Regions from separate parts of the Homo sapiens genome. Here region 2 is linked to region 1. The links come from fine-mapping of genetic effects on gene expression. A gene starts in region 1. The other region holds a variant in brackets. All regions are shown on one strand. Distances are from middle to middle.

Region 1 (5,383 bases):
TTTTTTCCCAAATGAGATGACAAAATGGAAAGACCATTTCTACACCAAGCATTGAGCCATAGGAAAGCGGAATGTCAGTCAGGGCATCTGCAGATCAGGAAATCATGTCACAGAAAACAGGACCTGTATAAGATCTAAGTTTATGCCATTTGCTGATCAGTTACCATATTTCAAAAATTATACACACTGTAATCCCCTCTCTCTGTTCTGCGGGCCCTTTGAAGAAGAAGGCATTTTTAGCAAATGTCCTTTAAATGGAGAAAAGAGGCAGATCAATTTACTCCAAACTACTTCAGATTAGATCTTAGTCAGAATGCCTCCCCAGAGTGGAAGCTCTTCTCCAGAAGTACCTTTCCTGTTGGATTCAGGTTCAGGGTTGGAACCCACAGACCCAGAATGATAGGCTATCAGCAAAGAAAAGCATGTCATTAGCATCCAGCAGCCCTCAGTTTGTCCTTGTCTCCTTCATCTTCCTTCAAACTTCTATTTTTCTCTTAGATTTCCCTGAAACTCTTTTAAAAATTCCTTTTGAAACAAGTGGGTGCCTGACTCATTGCCTATTTCCTCTGTTTTCCACCCAAGTGGTAAACAATGGGCTCTATTCAAATATGGACCGTCTGTGAGCTGGGAACCTGCGTGCAGACAAAGCTCCTTGTCCCAGGGCAGACTGCCAGACCCATGCTCTCCTCCACTCACCTCCTAGGCTGTTTAATAAGGGCCACTTGGCAAAAGGCAACATATTGTCATGGTCCTGTGACCTTGTAGTTCTCTGTCTCTTTTCCCTTCAGCCCGAAAGAATATTTCTCTAAATTCTCAAGTCAACGCATTTGAGAACAGCCTTTCAAAAGATACTTGTAGGAATAACAGAAGGTAGTTCAGGACCCAGTCAAAAGGACTATCTGGCTTTATTTACAATAATTTTAATGCCTCTGTCCTAACTCCTCCAAAGTTATTAATATTTTGTCTGTAGATGGTGGTTGCCAGGAAAGAGAATCTTGCAAAGTCAAGGGCATGACAAAGCTGAGAAATAGAGAAGGCTAGCCTAAGACTTTGGGAAGAGAAAGGTGAAGGAAAAAAATAGTAGGAATCAGACTATGGAACAAGAAGAACGGGACAAAGTTTCAAGTCCAAAGTGAGCAGGTAAGACAAAAATAACTGAACTTAAATGACAGAGTAGTCTTCAGGGAAAAAAAGAGAGAGAGAGAAGAGACTAGAGAACACATTTGCTTCAAGTGCTTGAGGAAAGCACACCTCCAGTGTGTAGAGGAATCACAGGAGGAGATTTTGCATATGGTGTCCAAACTCCCTTCCCAAGAATTTATGTTTCCTGAAGAACACTGCCAACTTCCCCCCTCCATCTTAAAATGGTAAGAAAGAGAGTTAAAGAGAAGGTAAGGGAAACAAATAAATAATTACGATAATCCAGTTATATTAGATATGTGTGCATTTTAAAATAACTTCAACAACCATATGAAATTGTGGCTCTTGTTCCTGTTTTTTTTACAGATGAGAAAATTGTAGCTTATGGAGTTTAAATAATTTGCTCACAGTCACAGAATTAGCGCTAGAATTTAAAATCAAGTGGTATGACTAAAAAACCATGAGAAAATTCATTCCTTCTTTTACAAAACAAGTCACTCTCTACTGACAATCAAACCCAAGTCCTCTAGATTCTCCATAATATTATTTACATCTATCCTCTTCTATCCAGCCCTACTGTCCCTCCCTCATAGCTTACTAAGTTTTCCCCAAAAGCCTCCTGACCTCCCTTCTCTGTGTCCCCCCATTCTTTTCCTTTCTTCTTTCCTTTTCCTTCCTCTCTCAACATGTATCTCATCAATTCCAACCTGCTTAAAACCCTTCAGTGACTTCCCACTGACCTAAGATTAAGTCATTGCTCTCAAATATGGCACTGCTTACCCATTGTTCTGCATATTATATTCTCTCTCCATCACTTTCTATGTTCCAACCACATTGGACTTCTTTAATATCCTCAAAACTACAAGTCGTATACCAGGGAAGGGCTTTTACACAGGCTGTTTATTCACTGTGGAACACTCCCTCCTCCTCTTCTCTTAGCTCAGCCATTCGCAAACTTTTGGGGCTCGGCCCCTTTGTGCTCTCAAATCTTCTGAAGAACCCCAAAGACCTTTTCATTTTAAAAAAGGTAGATTATATCATTATATCATGTTGCAAATTAGAACCAATTCTTTTTTAAATATTTAATTCATTTTAAAACAACATAGTAAACTGATTATACCTTAACATAAATAACATTTTATGAAAACATAGCCACGTTTTCCAAAACCAAAAATACATGAGTGAGACTAGTAGTGCTGTTATGCATTTTTTGCAAATCTTACCAATATCTGGCTTACTAAAGGATAAATGGATTCTCATGTCTGCTTCTGCATTCAATCTGTTGTGAAATCTATGTTATGCAGCTTCTGTAAAACTCCATTGTACACTTGTAATGCAATAAGAATGAAAAGGCAAATGACTTCTTAGTATTATAGGAAAACAGTCTTAACTCCTCCCTAAAAGTGTCTTAGGCAGAGACATCCAGGAAACCCAAGGTATACATTAGGAACTCTTAATTATCCTTAATATCTTGTCTTAAAGTTAAAATTTGCAAAGATGTCTTTCCTGACCTCAAAGAATAGGTCTGAGTCCTCTTGTTATATGTTTCTATAACATTCTTACCTCTCTGTCAAAACACTCACCGTACCTATAATTTATTCAATAATTTGCATAAGGACAGGGACCATACCAACTTTGTTCATAGTGAGTCTCCAGTGCTCAGCACACAGCAAGGACTCAGAAAATCTTTGTGGGAGGAAGCAGGAAATAGAAGGGGGAGAGCAAGGAAGTAAGGCCTCAGACTCAATGACACAGCTCCCTGACAATCGCTCCATTCCTTCAGCAGGATGTACACAGAGATATAACTTTCTACAGCATCCACTGCAGCTCTGGGCTCCATTTCCCTTTGAAATGGGATGGGAGAAAGGGGCAGGTAACAGACTGGAGTGAGGAGACTGAGGAGAAACTGTAGAGAATAATACTTAGGAGTACACGTGCTGGATTCTCTCATTAAGGTAATCATTCAATATTTACTAAGCAGCTACAATTTGCCAGGCATTCTTCTGGGCACTTGGGACACATCAGTGAACAAAATAGAGAAAAGTTTCTGGCCTCAAGCGATTTACAGGCAGACCTGAACTCAACCACACATCCCTCCACTTGAGTTGGCCTGGATTGTTTGTTTAATCTTCTTGTGCCTTATTTCTCTCATCAGTAAAATGTGAACAAGCCTTGAGAGTTTCCAGGTGAGAACTAAATGAAAGAATATCTTTAATGTACCCAATAGAATCAGGCACCTGGTAGGTGCCTAATAAATGGAAATCTTTCTGCTGGCAACTCTTATTCCAAAATTGATTTTTTTTTCATGTACAGAAACTATTCGATAGATTAGAATCCAGTCACTCACAGGATATCACTTGGGTAGTTGTCGGGGAGGGGGAGTGGTGTATTTAGGGTCTTCTCAGGATTCGGGGGGCTGGCTGCAGTGTCATTTTCCTATAGAGAAGCATCACCTCTGGCTTCCTCTCTTCTTCACAAGCCACCTGGATATGTTTACATTGAACTATGCAAGGTACTATTGTAGTCTTAAGCTATGCAGTATTTCAAAACAGACTTTCCTGAGGACTCTTACAAAAATAATTATGCCACGAGTGTCAGACTATTTGAAAGAAGATATTCATAGCCAACTGTTTGTAAGGGACCACCTCCTTACATGGGTTTATTGTGTATCATAGGGTTGCTGGGGTTTTCCAACTTCACCCTCTGAGTGTGGGTTGGCCTTTCTGAGAAAGCTACACTGCCTTTGAAGTAGGACTACCAGGAGAGAGGGGGGAAAAAAAAGTGTAGGGCTCTTTGACTTTTCATTTCCCTTTCTATCTACTTACTCTTTGTGCCTTCTCCAGTTAGTACCACACTAGAGAAGTGTTAGGTAGAGGAAGAGGAAGAAAGAAAAAAGGACAATCTTATCAGTTGATTTTGCTATGTGTTACCAGTCTGGTAAAAACATTTGAAGTTAGAAAGTATTCAAACATGAATAAAGTTTGGGAATTACTTGTATGGATTTAATTTCCTCAGAATACCCTCATTGTTCCTTCGCAGGAAATATTCATGAGTCAACTATCCAGAATCATAGTTATTATTCAAGCGGTGTGGGTTTAAAAGGAGATTTGATGCCATGGCAAACCTCACTGACTTAGACTGTTCTTCAAGTTAAAGAGCAGGATGATGTCTGAAGTGGCTGAAACACATATGGCTTCAGTGTGTCAAGAAGACCTGAAAGATCCCACATGGAAGTGAAATTCATTACTGGCAAGCACGGTGGCAGGAGACCCCAGAGGGCTGAGCCGCAAAGAATTTGCAGAGCCTTATGGCTAACTCCATGGCCTAGTTTGATCTTGAAGTTACTGTCTTGGATAATCCTCTCAAATCTGTTCCTGCACTTAAGAGCCACTCATCACATGACGGAGCTCCCTCTCAGGTTCCTTTACATCGCCCTGTCAGAAATGACTTTCAGGGAACAGACATCACATCAAATCATCCAACAGATGTCCCTTTCAAATAAGTTGGAGCAGAACCAACTATATGGAGAAGTCATAAACAAAGAAACAGACAACCCAGTGATTTCCAGCGGATTGACATTACTCTTTGCACAGAAACCTCAGTCTCCTGGGTGGAAGAACATGAGTTCAACAAAGCGTGTGTGCACTATATTGGCTGACTCTTGCCGTGCTCAGGCTCATGCTGCTGACAGGGGAGAGAGGGGACATTTTGGAGTCCAAATCTTGCATCATTTCATTGAAGTGTTCAATGTCATGGCTGTAAGAAGTAACCCATTTTAATAACTGGCATCAAAGGATTTAGGAGAGAGAAACCCAGTATCCAGACCCATTTCCGTCAGTGACACTCTCCTCGTATTGGGAGGATTGGCCAGAATCGTCTGATTCCTGTTTCTGATTTCCTTCCTCACTGGCATCAGAGTATTTCACTATAGGAAAACTAATATCTAACTGAGCTCCAAGTGCTAAATAACAGCATCTCATGTTCATTCCGGGTCACCAAGAGGTTCAGGGTGACCAAGTCACAAACTATAAATTTGAACATTTGATGATTTTTGCAGGAGACTGGGTGAACAAAGGAAAACCCGAGAGATACATAAAGGTGGAAACTAGGATTTCTCATTTGAATTATTTAACATGCCTCACTCTAATGGTTATAAATGTAAAGGAAATGCAGGTTCTTCAAGAAGGTGAAACGAAGTTACTGAATTTAAGTTTTTTTTTTTTTAAACCTACTTTAGAATAGG
Region 2 (5,383 bases), 63 kb after region 1:
TTTAGCATTTTCATTGCCACGAATCACACATTATGTAACTATTACTAAGCTAATCCCACTAAAGCCTATTAATGTCAGAAAGACTTGGGTGTTTCACTACTAAACTGTCTCTGAGGATGTTTTAACACTTGTTCTTAGGCTGCATTTAATATCTGCAATTATGGGGAAAGGATGCCATGAAAACTATCCTTAAATCCTTTTTTATTTATTTTGTTTTGAGATGGAGTCTCGCCCTGTTGCCCAGGCCGGAGTGCAATGTCACAATCTCGGCTCACTACAACCACCTCCACCTCCCAGGTTCAAATGATTCTCCTGCCTCAACCTCCCAAGTAGCTGGGATTACAGGCGCCCGCCACCACACCCAGCTAATTTTTGTATTTTGAGTAGAGACGGGGTTTTACCATGTTGGCCAGGCTGGGCTCGATCTCCTGACCTCATGACCCACCCACCTCGGCCTCCCAAAGTGCTGGGATTACAGGTGTGAACCATAGTGCCGGCCAAATCCATTTTTAACACAACCAAACAAAACATCAACTTGATTGAGAGCTCCAGGACATTGATTGAGAGCTGTTGCCATATGTTTTTAGGCTCCAGTATATCAAGGCTAAAGTGCTCACCATTGCTAGAGGACAAAAACACACAGCAGCTGCTCAGCAATGCCTAAGCCTGTGGCCCAAGTCGAAAAGAATTAGACCAAGTATTACAGTAATCAGGCCTCAAGCAAGCAAAAGCCTGGCTCAATACTAAGAACCCCCTACTAATGGGGAGAGCACACCTCCATACTCCGGTGCCTGGGGAAACATTTCCCAGGAGTGTGGTGGTGTTCTGCCTGCTGGGAGATAGATACCATTAACCTCTCTTCTTACTATGTTTGAACTCCACTTGCACTCTTATCTCTGAATTTTGTCTTGTTTCCACTAAGTATTGCTTGCCCCTTCTTCTTCATACTCAAAAATATGGATGTAATATACCTGCCTCTAAGGCCCCTTTGAAAGTTCATCTTCACCCCCAAGTTAAACAGAAAACCCTCATGCATGTGTGCAGTCTGATTTCATCTTATGTGGCGCTCCTCCTACTGACAAAATATGTTCTCACTCTGAGAAGTTTCCCTGTGCCGCTTTAGTAATAAACAAATCCACCTGTGTTTGCATCCTAGGCGTTCTCAGTGTACCACACTTGAGCTCTGCCTCCCCGGTTAGGCATCTGCTCTGGAAGCACGAGGAATATTGCTTTCAGTCCTCTTATATTCCTGATACCCTTGACTTTGCAAGGCCTAGCAATACGCGGCACTTACTATAAATTAAATAAATAAAAATCCATTTAAGTCAATCAAACCAACAGCTCTCTGTTTCTCCTGTGAAATGGAGAGGCAGATGAGTAGCCCAGCATTCTGCATGGTTCCCCTGATGCACTCTCCCTGCCCACTGAAGCAGCCCTGCAGTTCCACCCAGTCATTCCCTGCTTCTCTGCACCATAGTGACGGGTCCACCTAGAAGGAAACTCCCTTTAAAAGTTGCTCCATTAAACTGATAAGAACAGATACTACACTTGATTTTAGCCAAGAGGATATGGAGAAATAGGAATGCTTTTACACTGTTGGTGGGAGTGTAAATTAGTTTAACCATTGTGGAAGACAGTGTGGCGATTCTTCAAGGATCTAGAACCAGAAATACTATTTGACTCAGCAATCCCATTACTGGATATATACCCAAAGGATTACAAATCATTCTACTATAAAGACACATGCACATGTATGTTTACTGCGGCACTATTCACAATAGCAAAGACTTGGAACCAACCCAAATGCCCATCGATGATAGACTGGATAAAGAAAATATGGCACATATATATCATGGAATACTAAGCAGCCATAAAAAAAGGATGAGTTCATGTCCTTTGCAGGGACATGGATGAAGCTGGAACCATCATCCTCAGCAAACTAACAGAACAGAAAACCAGAAACTGCATGTTCTCACTCATAAGTAGGAGTTGAACAATGAGAACATATGGACACAGGGAGGGGAACATCACACACCAGGGTGAGGGGCTAGCGGAGGGACAGCATTAGGAGAAATACCTAATGTAGATGATGGGTTGATGGGTGCAGCAAACCTCCATGGCTCGTGTATACCTATGTAACAAACCTGCATGTTCTGCACATGCACCCCAGAACTTAAAGTATAAAATAAAATAATTATAAATTTTTTTAAAAAGTTGCTTCATTCTGGGGACAAGAGACCACCAAGCTGTTGCATGTTAGAACAGACCTACTGGGAGGCAGTAGAGGGCACTGTGGACTCATGCCCATGACACCCCCAATAAGCACACCTATGGCAAAGAGGAAGTGCCTAAGTCCACAGGTCTCGAGTTTGTAGTGCGCATACCTCCTGCCCAAGTCTATTGCTGCTGTTGCTTAGCCCTTTCAATATTCTTTTCTTACATTTTGTTTTTCTTAACTGTATCAAAGCTTGTGAAAAATTCATATCAGTTATTTCAATTTTTCTGAAAGATTCAGTAAATCAGATATTGTTTTAAAACAATCATCACCAAAGCCACGTGGCTTAGTGAGGATTGTTTTAAAACAGTCAATGAGGAAGTTAGGAAATAATTCTTCATCTCCAGACTTAATTGACTAAGTCCCAAAGATTATT[A/G]CCCTATATTATCTCTTAAATCACACCCCCTCTTACTTAGGACAGGAACATACCCCTGAACAACAGTGCTCAGCTGAGGGGGTGAACAAGGCTAAAACCCAGCCAATCACTGCTGGCAAGGCCTTGAGCCCTGGCTCCAGGCTGCACCTGCCTTAGGAAGGGGCGTCTCTCTACGACACTGAATGGCCTCCTGTGGATCACCACAGACCTGCTTTAACCACCTTAACTGCAACCACCTTGTTCTTGGCCCTTATTTATACGTTGACCACTATGACCATCTCCTAACACTCCTAGAGGTAACTTAAACTGCATACACACACATATATTCATAACTGAACAAGCTTTATGCATATTTACAAATTAAATGTGCCATCACTGAAATTCAAATTAAAAGCATTAATCAAATGTGACCAACATACTGTTTGACTAAAATTGAACCTCTTCTGCTCCAGGGAGGATAAGGAGCTGACAGCTATGTTACAAGATCTATCTAGTTTTGTACTATATAGACCATGTGTTATGCAATGACTCAATATCCAATCAATGTTTTCTCTGATAAAGTCCTTCCAAACTGTCTGTTGGCATCATTTGGCCATTATGAAGTTTATGTTTGTTTTAGTCTCATTATGTGGAAACAGTTAAAGCAGTCCTACTGGAACCCAAATAATCTTATGTTCAAATGTCTACTTGGACTTAAATCTCATTTTAGTACACAGGCAATAAAATAATGATCCCGATAATCCAGATCCAGATAATCCAGAAGGTGCTTATTGTAGTTAAACATAAACAAAAGTAAGCTAATTGCTAAATTTAGAGCCCAAAAGGGCCAGACCACCATCATACCTGAATTTATAGATCAAAAGAAACCAAGTTGAAATCCAACTCTTTCCTTACAGGTTTTAATATTAGATGGCTACAGGAGGACTCAGGCTTAGAAAACACCACTTCTCATGCTTATGGTATTAAGCCCTCCTTTCAGTAAATAAGGAAGGGGATATATCCTCCATGAGAAACTTAAATAAATATAGCTGTTCTTCCACTGACCTATATTTCCTATCAGAGAACACCAAATACTATGTAAATAGAAAATAACTCTACTGTTGAGATAATCTATAAGAGGGTCAGCAAACCATAGCTTTAGGGCCAAATCCAGTTCTTGCCTTGTTTTTGTACTTCCTGAAAGCTAAGAATTTTTACATTATTAAAGGATTATTAAAAATGAATTTATAATGGAGACAGTATGATAGGTCACAAAGTCTAAAATTTTCTACCCTGTCTATGTAAAGTTTTCCAACCACTGAACTAGATAATACCCTAATAAAGAATATTACCAATGAAAACTACATAGAGCTATTCATCATTTCTATGTAAATTCACTGTCAAAAAATGATCATCAGAAATAAGATGGACATATTTTACCATCCATGAACTTTTATTTCTTGGACTTCTATGTAATAAGGGTTCATCAGTGAATGTCCATGTAGAACATTTTTTGTCCAGTCAAGTCTAATGTGTTTAAACTGGCCAGTATTTGATAAGACTAACATCTTTATCACAGCCTCCATCCTGAACTGCTTGCCTTCATCCAACTCAAGCCCCATTACCTAACGTTTTCCTGAATGTTAGTCCTCCTGAGAGCTCAATTTGCCCTCTTTGGGCAGCATTGCCTTGATCACAAATCTGCTGCTCAAGACCCCTTTTCTGGCTCTGATCTCAATTTCCATTTGCAATCACTCATTTGATTATGCTCTTCAGAACAAACCAGGATTGTCTCACTAAGTCTAGCCCGTTCTTACAAGACAGTTCTTACTGTACTTACTGTACAATGCAGCTGATGAATGCCCATACTGGGATGAAGCCAGGCATACTGTCACCCAGTGACTTGGAAATTTAATACTCAACTGATGATGCCAGGATAGGAAGCCAGCCAAACTGGCTCAGTCAAAACAAAAATCTTCTTTCCTTTCTTTTGATTTTTGCTCCAAAATGGCTAATTCATTTGATGGGGAACTTGAGTTTTCTTTATAGAGTGAAATTGAGAAAGATAATAATTAATTTTGAAAATATATACAGAAACATTGGAGCTCTAAGGCAGTCTGAGGCAATGCCTTTTAACTAGGAGCCAGAGATCCCTATGACAATGCTTCTCAGTGTTTGGTCCAGCTCACTTAAACCAGAATTCTCTTGAGTGCTTATTAAAAATTTGGAATCCTGGGACTAACTCTCTAATATCTGATGAATCAGAATTTTTGAGAATGGAGTCCCACTATTATTGTGGTTGATAAAACTTCTGGACCAAGACTTAAGAGGCCAACATATGGTCTTTAGGGGATTTTCTTATCCACTGAAATTATTTGCAAAAATACATGATGGTTGATGGTTCGAAGTGCATTTTTCTAAAATGACCCTATTCATCTTCATCAAATTATCAAAGCAATCTATAGTTTGAAATAAGAATCACTTGTTTTAAAGGAAAATAAAATTGAATCAAAATACAAAGCTTAAATTTCTCTGAGCACCATTTCCTGCATGACTGGTAAGTCTTGCCTTCTCTGGGAAGCCATTCTTCCTTCTTGCCCATGTGCCATACAGCTCTTCATACATACCAGCAGCTTAGACCTCCAGGAATTTCCATTTCACCCAGGGAAGCAGCTTTGGTAACTTCTCTTTGAGATCAGAGCTCCCGTATGGTGAATCTGGGGTCTCAATTTACTGTTCTCTACTCTAAAGTA

Alleles and levels. Positions count from the first base shown, and alleles are read on the strand shown. Sizes are in standard deviations (SD) of each study's normalised expression.
For the expression in monocytes after Pam3CSK4 of the gene that starts at base 2,901 in region 1, allele A in region 2 goes with a higher level than allele G (large effect, 1.1 SD a copy in Quach 2016).

Evidence for each region. PIP is the estimated chance that this variant, and not a neighbour inherited with it, causes the effect.
Region 2: its variant is the best candidate, but not a certain one, in a credible set for the expression of LINC02915 in monocytes after Pam3CSK4 (Quach 2016, PIP 0.81).

Annotation. Positions count from the first base shown.
Region 1 is chr15:39,247,769-39,253,151 of GRCh38, forward strand. It overlaps LINC02915 (long intergenic non-protein coding RNA 2915), which reads left to right and starts at 2,901. Exons shown (of 2, transcript NR_144508.1): 1 at 2,901-3,095; 2 at 4,291-5,383. All of the region lies in intron 1 of LOC105370777 (a long non-coding RNA gene), which reads right to left.
Region 2 is chr15:39,310,874-39,316,256 of GRCh38, forward strand. All of the region lies in intron 1 of LOC105370777 (a long non-coding RNA gene), which reads right to left. Among named protein-coding and RNA genes, the nearest start is that of LINC02915, 63 kb to the left of the region's middle. The variant A/G (reference allele first, on the strand shown) is at 2,652.